3 separate regions of the Homo sapiens genome follow, and all the other regions are reported to be linked to region 1. Evidence: microRNA targets listed by miRTarBase, many of them from high-throughput screens and not tested one by one. Region 1 holds a microRNA gene; each other region holds the end of a gene's coding sequence.

Region 1 (3,360 bases):
GCCTGTAATCCCAGCCCTTTGGGAGGCCAAGGGAGGAGGATTGCTTGAGCTCAGCAGTTTGAGAACTGCCTAGGCAACATAGCGAGACCTCGTCTCTACTAAAAATAAAAAAAAATCAGCCAGGTGTGGTGGCATGTGCCTGTAGTCGCAGCTACTTGGGAGGCTGAGGTGGGAGGATCACTTGAGCCCAGGAGATTGAGATTGCAGTAAGCCATGATTGTGCCACTGCACTCCTGGGCAACAGAGCAAGACCCTGTCTCAAAACAGAAAAAAAAAAAAAGATAATTCATGGAGAGAGAGATTATCAAGGAAGATTAAGCTCCTCTTATATGTTAGGTATCGTATAGTAAGTCTCCCTTCCATTCTTATCCTCTGGGCCCATTAGAGGCTGCCGCTGTTTTTTTGTTTTTTTGTTTTGCTTTTTCGAGATGGAGTTTTGCTTTTGTCACCCAGGCTGGAGTGCAGTGGCACAAACTTGGCTCACTGCAACCTCCGCCTCCCGGCTAATTTTTGTATTTTTAGTAGAGACAGAGTTTCACCATGTTGGCCAGGCTGGTCTCGAACTCCTGACCTCAAGTGATACGCCTGCCTCGGCCTCCCAAAGTGCTGGGATTACAGGTGTAAGCCACTGCGCCCAGCCTGCCACTTTTAATAATTCTTGCATATGTTCCAGGAATACCTATGTGGATATATATGTATGTATGTGTGTATTTTTTTTAATGTGATATTTTTAAAATAGTGTCTTTTTTTTATTATTACTATTTTTTGCGACAGAGCCTTGCTCTGTCGCCCAGGCTGAAGTGCAGTGGCGCAGTCTCTGCTCACTGCAAGCTCTGCCTCCCTGGTTCAAACGATTTTCCTGCCTCAGCCTCCCGAGCAGCTGGGATTACAGGTGCCTACCACCAAGTGCGGCTAATTCTTATATTTCTAGTAGAGATGGGGTTTTGCCATGCTGGCCAGGTTGGTCTCACACTCCTGACCGCAGGTGATCTGCCTGCATTGGCCTCCCAAAATGTGATTACAGGCGTGAGCCACTGTGCCAGGCCAAAATAGGATCTTTATTTTCTAGAAATATGGGTAAGAATATTGATTTGTTTGCTTTTCAGTTCTATGTTGTACTAAAAATTTATTGATAAATGTATTCCTAAAGAGTAGAAAATTGAAATGCAGCCAGGCACGGTGGCTCACGCCTATAAACCCAGCACTTTGGGCGGCCAAGGCAGGCAGATCACGAAATCAGGAGTTCAAGACCAGCCTGGCCAACATGGTGAAACCTGGTCTCTACTAAACATACAAAAATTAGCCAGGCGCGGTAGTGGGCGCCTATAATCCCAGCTATTTAGGAGGCTGAGGCAGGAGAATTGCTTGACCCCTGGAGGCAGAGGTTACAGTGAGCTGAGATTGTGCCACTGTATTCCAGCCTGGGTGACAGAGACTTTGTTTTGGGGTTGGGGGCAGGGGTGGGAATTAAAATGCACCGTTCAGATCTTATATGCATCGCTGACAGGGAAACTTTTTTCAGGGTGAAGAAGGTGAATACAGTGAAGAGGAAAACTCCAAAGTGGAGCTGAAATCAGAAGCTAATGATGCTGTTAATTCTTCAACAAAAGAAGAGAAGGGAGAAGAAAAGCCTGACACCAAAAGCACTGTGACTGGAGAGAGGCAAAGTGGGGACGGACAGGTTAGTACATTCCACAGTCCTCCATTTTAGAGGCTGGAATAGAGATTCTTGAGGCTTGGAAGAGTAAGGATCCCTTTATCTGTCCTCTAGGAGAGCACAGAGCCTGTGGAGAACAAAGTGGGTAAAAAGGGCCCTAAGCATTTGGATGATGATGAAGATCGGAAGAATCCAGCATACATACCTCGGAAAGGGCTCTTCTTTGAGCATGATCTTCGAGGGCAAACTCAGGAGGAGGAAGTCAGGTAAAAGCCACTTGCTGCTGCTGCTGTCTAACATGTATTTTACACATGTAGGCCAGGTACTTCGATTTGCCTGTATTTCATTTATTACAGCATTTTAAGATAAGTATTATGATTATCCTTATCGTACAAATGAGGAAAGTAGGCTTAGAATATTTGGTAACTCTTGGTGAGGCAGCTAAGATACAGACCTAGGACAGTTTGTTTCCAGAACTCATCTTCTCTTAATTATTATACTTTTGCTTTTCTTAGTCTGAGGTGTAAGGCGTCTGAGAAGTGAAATACTTGCATAGGTTGCCTTTTAGGAGAAAGGAGATGTTTCAAAGGTACTGAATGGCATGAAATGAAGTCTTTTTCTCATTTCTGTGTCTGTTATATTTGAGCCCAGCAGGCCCTGAGGTTCTGTGATTCACGCTTGCTTTGGGGAGGCCTGTTTTTTATAATCTCTTTGGGATGATGAGGAGACTACGTAAAGTTCCTATTGTCCCCCTGCCTCCCTGACCCATTTTGTTCAAGAACATCTCTACTTGGAGAATTCTGCTGACCCAAGACACTTTTCCTTCATTTTATCCAGACCCAAGGGGCGTCAGCGAAAGCTATGGAAGGATGAGGGTCGCTGGGAGCATGACAAGTTCCGGGAAGATGAGCAGGCCCCAAAGTCCCGACAGGAGCTCATTGCTCTTTATGGTTATGACATTCGCTCAGCTCATAATCCTGATGACATCAAACCTCGAAGAATCCGGAAACCCCGGTGAGGACATTTTAGAACATAAGACCAGGCTGGGTATGGTGGCTTACGGTGGCTTACACCTGGAATCCCGGCACTTTGGGAGGCTGAGGCAGGAGGATTGCTTGAGGCCAGGAGTTCAAGACCAGCCTGGGGAACATAGTGAGACCCTGTCTCCAAAAAAAAAAAGAAAAAAAGGAAAAAAAAAATAGAGTGTAGACTCTTGATATCTTTTAGAAAGAATTCTCTTTGCTTTTCTTTTTATTTATTTATTTAAGACAGAGTCTCGCTGTGTTGCCTAGGCTGGAGTGCAATGGCATGTTCTCGGCTCACTGCAACCTCCACCTCTTGGGTTGAAGTGATTCTCCTGCTTCAGCCTCCTGAGTAGCCAGGATTACAGGCGCGTACTATCGCGATCGGCTAATTTTTGTATTTTTAGTAGAAATGAGGTTTCGCTATGTTGGCCAGGCTGGTCTTGAACTCCTGGCCTCAAGTGATCTGCCCGTCTCGATCTCCCAAAGTGCTGGGATTACAGGCCTGAGCCACCGCGCGTAGCCTCCTTTTGTTAATTTCCTAACAGTTTCTTCATTCCATTTTTTGTAGATATGGGAGTCCTCCACAAAGAGATCCAAACTGGAACGGTGAGCGGCTAAACAAGTCTCATCGCCACCAGGGTCTTGGGGGCACCCTACCACCAAGGACATTTATTAACA
Region 2 (3,360 bases), not on the chromosome of region 1:
TTAACCGAGGCATACATACCACTCCAAAGAGAGCAAAGTTGAGCGTTCAAAGTTAGAGCAAAACAGACTTTACAACTAAGAAAAAAGGGGAAAGAGTAGGAGTTACTGATTACATGCAATCAATATTTGGTGTAAAATGAATGTGAGTAGTGAGTATAACTTCCCCAATTAATAAGTCAAAATCTAAATGCAGCTATTTTTCTACTTAACTATGAAGCCCATGGTCAGGTATCTCAGGTGTTTTTCAAGCAGCAGCAAAGTTTCAGGCAATCAGAATATAAGAAATTAGAACCAAGATAAATCAGACAGAATCTGTGGCAAGTATAGTCATTAAATATGAAGACAAATGGTCTTAACCATCAAGTAGCACCTGGAAGATTTACTTGCTCACATGAGATGTTTTTGCTCCTTTCAAGACAAGCACTGGAAAAGTATTCAGCGTGATTGCTTCGTTTGAAGATGATGTGGAAATAACATTATACAAACATGGAGGATTATTAAACTTTGTGGCACGAAAATTCTCATAGTATCTACTTACCATAGATACCTTTCATAACTGGTAACTGCAAAGCCTTTTGTGCTGGACCCAGGAATCCTTACCATGGAGCAGCAGATAGTCCCAGTATACTCACTTATCTCATCCATGGATGTAAATGATGATGAATCAACATAGTAACTGAAATGAAATCTTCTTGATTTTAAATAATATACGAATGGTGCTATTAATATTGCTAAAATCAACGTGTGAAGTGTGTTGTGGAAGAGACCTGTAAGTATGGGGGGGGGGCGATATTTTATCAGACCATTTTGTAAATAAAGGCAGAATTTGTGTTGAAGATTCTTATATGAATAACCTTCCTGGATTTGTTTAGTTTTGCACCAATAAAACTGTGTACTACTGTTTGTTGGTTTAAGAGTAGCAGATTGAAATATAAGAAGCCAGATTAGACTCTAAAATTGTGGCCATTGGAATCTCATTTATAAATGGACCTTTTAAGTATATTAATTCCTCTTCAGAATTGAGCTGGACACATTTGGCATTCTTAGTTTGTCATATAACCAGGTTTATCCTTAGTCTAACTGCAAGGGATGGAACCTGCCCCAGGTCACAATCATTCTGTCCAATCCAGCCAAGGTTCCCTCCACATATGAAGATGGACCATGGCAGGATACAACTGATTGTGTGGCACCATGTATTAGCAGTGGGAATATGTATCACATATGATGCAGCCTTTCATATTTCAGCAGTTTGCCACTGTGACTGTCTGGCAAGCCCCCAGATGGCGTTATATTAATTGGATTAGATTATTTTGCTCACCTTATGTAATACTGTAACTTCCTATAACCTAATATTTTCGGTATCATTAACCAAAATTTCACACTCATAGTTGCTAAAGAGAATGTTATTCAATCATTAAACTCTGAACTGATTTCTTCTATACATTTAAATTATCCACCCTCAATAATACGGGTGCTCAACCCTATGCATTTTTTAAGTGTTGCTATTTCTTAATTAAATTGATTTCCTGTCATTTTGAATCATTTATCACCTGCGATGCATGATTCTATTAATTTTGTTATGTTACTGTTTTAACCAAAGCTGACCGTAAGGATAAAACACTTAAGTTGTTGCTGAGTACTATATATCCTCAATATGCATGTCTGCCCATCACATCAAATGTTCTGTCAACAAGATGTTTGGTAATTTTTTTTAAAAAGGTTGGAAAATTAATTATAGAAGGTTCTATACTGTTTTTTTAATTAAGAAACTAAGTCTAGCAGGCTAAAGGTTAATTGTAGTGATTTTTTTTCACATAGATATCTTTCTATGACCTAGTTAGTTACTGCAATTCAGAATTAGTTCACATTGCATAAAGAATTACTTGTTGTAAGCAAAATGCTGAAACTACCAAACCAGTGGATGAAGACCACTAAGAACTTTGCACATAATCATACAATCTTTTGAAAATATTTTGCAAATATGTGTTTAGACAATAAGATGGACTAGAGTTCGACAAAATGATTTCTTTATTTAAATTTTGTATAAGTATTTTCTTCGACACTTTCAAATTATATTGTGTTCTTGATATATGCTGTATATTTATTTGTTAGTGCATGTGTTTTTAATTTACATGAAAACATGAGTTAGGAGAAATTACAGGTTGAAAGATGAAATGCCTGTATGTGCTCTGAAGAAATGGTAATTCCAGATTGTGCAGGGGGAAACAAATCTATTTTGTTTTGTTTTGTTTTTTGAGACGGAGTCTTGCCCTGTGGCTGGGCTGGAGTGCAATGGCGCGATCTTGGCTCACTGCAACCTCCGCCTCCCGGGTTCAGGGGATTCTCCTGCCTCAGCCTCCTGAGTAGCTGGGACTACAAGCATGCACCACCACGCCCAGCTAATTTTTGTAGTTTTAGTAGAGATGGGGTTTCACCATGTTGGCCAGATGATCTGAATCTCTTGACCTCGTGATCCGCCCGCCTTGGCCTCCACAAGTGCTGGGATTACAGGTGTGAGCCACCACACCCGGCCTATATTGTTTTGAAAGCATACTCTATATATAGTTATGGGCAGAGGCACAGGCATCCTCAGCAGCTGATTCAGGAGATGATGGTAAAGCTAGCTAACTATGAATTAAACATTCACATATCCAGTCTACCTGGTCCAGTAATAATACAAGCAAATCTTGTATTTCAGGAACAAATCAAGGTTCTCTTAATTTTTTGGCTTATATACAATGAAGTAAAAACTTGATAAACATGGTTTCAAATTGAGGAGGAGAGTCTTGGATGTATGTTTTAATATGTATACCTTATAATTCTGCCTCTAGCCAAATGCTATGTTTGCAAAATGTGGCATCTGTTAGTTTTTATTGTCTGTGTCTTCTTTGTTTACTATACCTTGGGTAATTTTGTGTTACCAAAAAAAAAAAAAAAAAAAGGAAGTGTAATGTCAGACACACAAGAAAAGCAAATCAGTGTTGTAAGCTTAAAGTACAATTTCAAAGGTCACTACCAACAGCAGGGTTTTTTTTATACTTTGAAAACATTATGCTACATATCATTGCCATTTTCATATTTTGGGGTTTTGCTACTCTTATACAATGGAATCAATGGAAATGTCATCCAGCCACTGAATTGCCATTATTATATCTAAAAAGTTTCTAAGATGACAGTTATCACTATTTTGTTTTATCTCCATGCTGACATTTGAAAGAAGGTACTAGTATCCCTCTAGCCAGATTGCTTAGTTTTTCGTTGGTAATCAAACAACAGTTGTACTAAAGGAAAGTAAAGCTAGGACCTAAATCAGAATCATAGTTGCCTGCATATATGGTAACAAGGTCGTGTGCATTTGCT
Region 3 (3,000 bases), not on the chromosome of region 1:
CGTTTGTAAGGATCTCTAAGATACTCAAATGGTAGACACAGGGTACCTGTGCTTGGTAAAACTACAACTTCCCTACTTTCTGCTTAAGACATGGAGGTCAGAAGCAACCCACAATGAACTGTGAACCAGAGATCAAACTAAATATTCCTTTTAATAGAAATGTGAATCTTGCCATGTTGGGCAGACTGGTCTCCAACTCCTGGCTTCAAGAGATCCTCCCACCCGCCCTAGCCTCCCAAAGTGCTAGGAATTACAAGTGTGAGCCACCACATCCAGCCAGTGTCTTTGAAAACAATCAAATATAATCCTTAATGTTTCTTTACATTGTCATCAAGTATTAGTAACAGTGACTTCTAGTGAACACCTTGATCCTTAAACCACAGGTCTAAGTTCAGTTTTGTGATTCCTTTCATTTTTACACTCAACCCTGAATATGGACAAGACCGGTTAGTGTGACCTGTTATTTTAGGAATTACAACTTTAAAAATTCCTAATAGCCACAATCTAAATGTGCAATTCAAAGCTTTTAACAATTTCCATGTTCTAAAGTTTCTAAGAGTCTTGAGGTTATGCTAGGGCTCCTGGTTAAAGTAACTGCCAACTGGGACTGTATGTCACCTAAGTCAGGATAACTCCCTGGTGAAGTTACTTTTATTTCAGGTTCTGTATTATTTCTCTTAGCCATATTATACCCGTAACTGTCCTTTTTACAGAAACCCTTCCAACTTAAGAGCCTGCAAGGAAGTCATATACTGCCCAAAAATGCCCACATAAGTTGTCCATTTATAAAAAGCAATGTAATTGACATATTGCATGGCTTCCGTAACTTCTTAGCTATCTTGGCTTGTTCCTAACAGGAACAGGTTGTAGGCTATGTGAGAATACTAAAGACAAAATGCCCAATGCCAGAGCTCTCAGTAAATAAACAGGCTGTCTGAAAAGTGTCTTTCTTGAACATGCTTAACTTTAAGGCTGAACCTTCCTGACACCAATTCTCCCAAGATTTGTGTAAAAGGTGGAAATAAATAATTTGTTTAGGAACTGTATCTTAATGTATCCATTTAGCTTGAACTCTTAATGCAATGACTTATCTTTCATATTTAAGACAGTCAATACCGCATAATCCAAAACTATCTTAAGAGCATATTTAAGGAAACTAAGCCACAAGACTGTTGCATTATGATTTAATCTAATTGCACAAAAATTTGAAATTACAACACCTGCCATTTTCTAAGAGGAAGGTTATGCATGCCTCCATATTCAATTCTGCACTGTTACATTTGAACCATATTGTGAACTTTTACATCATGATGGATCAGCTTAGAATTCCCATGCAACACCTCAAATTATAAAATGGAAGCAATTTTTAGACCTGTGGAAAGTTTTCATGCTAAAGATAAAAGCCATTTGTTAATGGGCAACTTACTTTGTGTTTAAGAACCAGGTTGCTGCTATACTTTAAAATGTTGGTCACTAAATATTATGGACCCTGAACTGGCTTCTATGCCTAAAAAAAAAAAAAATGGGTTAACTATCACTTAGGTGACATCTATATTTCCTTCACTTCAGAAGACTAATCCATAGTGCCTCTCAGCTGTTTCTTATAAAATAAGAATCGTGTAACCAACTGCTTCCCATGGGATAAGAACAATGGTAACAGTGGGTTCAACTGACTATACACAATTATGCTAATATTTTATTAATTCAAAAGCACTTTACAAGAAAATATAAGTATGGCTTCCAATAGGAATGTTATACCTGGACTTGGTACCAAGCTCACAGATTTGAGTTTGCAAGGAAAAACAGGCTTTCAAGTTAAAGAACAATTTGTAACCAAAACTTTAATCCCAAGGATTCTCACAAAACATATTACAAATGACAGCATGAAAAAAAAATCTTGCACAGTAACTCAAAGTTCGGCTCTACAATGTACCCTTAAACTGGCAGGACATTTTTGAAATCACAAATTTGCACATAAAGAATGTCACGAACAGCCATGTATCCATATACAGCAATCAAATAAGGAACTTATGACCTAAAGCAAAGGTAAACTTTCTTGAAACTTAACATTCTATACCAACTAGGCAACCTCTGCCCAGGATGAGAGTTGGATTTTTCAAAAACCTCTAATTTAATAGTGCAGCATTTCGTTTTCCCTGATGGCCTGTGTTTCACAGCAGTTTTTAAAGACTGCTTGTTCAACTATAGCTGCAGCCTATATCCCAGCTATGGAAAAAAAAGTAAATCTTAGTTCAATTTTTGCCAGTTGTTTCTGTATTTAAATTTAAAAAAAAACACACTTCCGCTGGGCAGGTTTAGAGGTTTATTATCAGTCTGTGCATAACTAAAAGTTCAAAGCAAATTCAATTTTGCTTAAGGGAACATTGTAAAGTAACAATTCTTGGTATTACATGCCTCGTATGATCCATTTCAAACCATAGAGAATTACACCTTTGTGTCACTGTTTCAAGAGACAAACAGATTTGAACAGCTAAAACATCTTAAAAATGCACCAAGCTTATGAAGTCTCAAACAAAACTTGAATTTTCTGTACATACTCCTGTCAAATGAAGTAATTTCCTGTACACCACTTCTCTTGCAAACTGTCTTCTATTTCCTTTCATTTGACCTAGATCGACTAAAAAAAAAAAAAAAAAAAGAAAACAAAACATTACATCTGTAACTTGGTGACACTTTAGTGACATATCGAAATAGAACTTTAAGGTAAAAAATTTATGGCTTAGAAGACAGGCCTTAGCATACTATGTATGCAAAGTCTTAAATACAAGTTATCAAAGATCTTACCTACGAGACCTAGAGAAGGATCGGGACGGCTTGTGATTTCTCTCCCGAGACAGCGATCTCTCTCTTCTCCTATCTCTAGAAAGGGACCTAAACAAGCAAAAAAACATTAGGACCAATGAGGTATGATAAAATTATACATAAATATTTTCTTGATCTGGCATGGTGACTCATGCCAATAATTCCAATATTTTGGGA

What was found. The annotated mature microRNA hsa-miR-6866-5p reads UUAGAGGCUGGAAUAGAGAUUCU and lies in region 1 at 1,708-1,730, shown strand. An mRNA with a match to its seed (bases 2 to 7 or 8) in the 3' UTR can be bound and repressed. Matches are read on the target gene's strand: a 7mer-m8 pairs with bases 2 to 8, a 7mer-A1 pairs with bases 2 to 7 and ends in A, and an 8mer does both.
Region 2: the mRNA of IREB2 is a reported target of hsa-miR-6866-5p. Seed matches in the 3' UTR shown: 7mer-m8 at 2,824-2,830.
Region 3: miRTarBase lists SRSF3 as a target of hsa-miR-6866-5p. Seed matches in the 3' UTR shown: 7mer-A1 at 2,316-2,322.

What each region holds. Positions count from the first base shown.
Region 1 is chr17:40,160,231-40,163,590 of GRCh38, forward strand. MIR6866 (microRNA 6866) reads left to right here and starts at 1,703; the gene lies at 1,703-1,771. CASC3 (CASC3 exon junction complex subunit) reads left to right here. Exons shown (of 14, transcript NM_007359.5): 4 at 1,523-1,681; 5 at 1,772-1,923; 6 at 2,495-2,671; 7 at 3,251-3,360.
Region 2 is chr15:78,497,617-78,500,976 of GRCh38, forward strand. It overlaps IREB2 (iron responsive element binding protein 2), which reads left to right. Exons shown (of 22, transcript NM_004136.4): 22 at 417-3,360. The coding sequence ends at 527. Among named protein-coding and RNA genes, the nearest start is that of HYKK, 8.3 kb to the right of the region's middle.
Region 3 is chr6:36,601,600-36,604,599 of GRCh38, reverse strand. SRSF3 (serine and arginine rich splicing factor 3) reads right to left here. Exons shown (of 6, transcript NM_003017.5): 5 at 2,806-2,892; 6 at 1-2,638. The coding sequence ends at 2,611. Among named protein-coding and RNA genes, the nearest start is that of SRSF3, 8.7 kb to the right of the region's middle.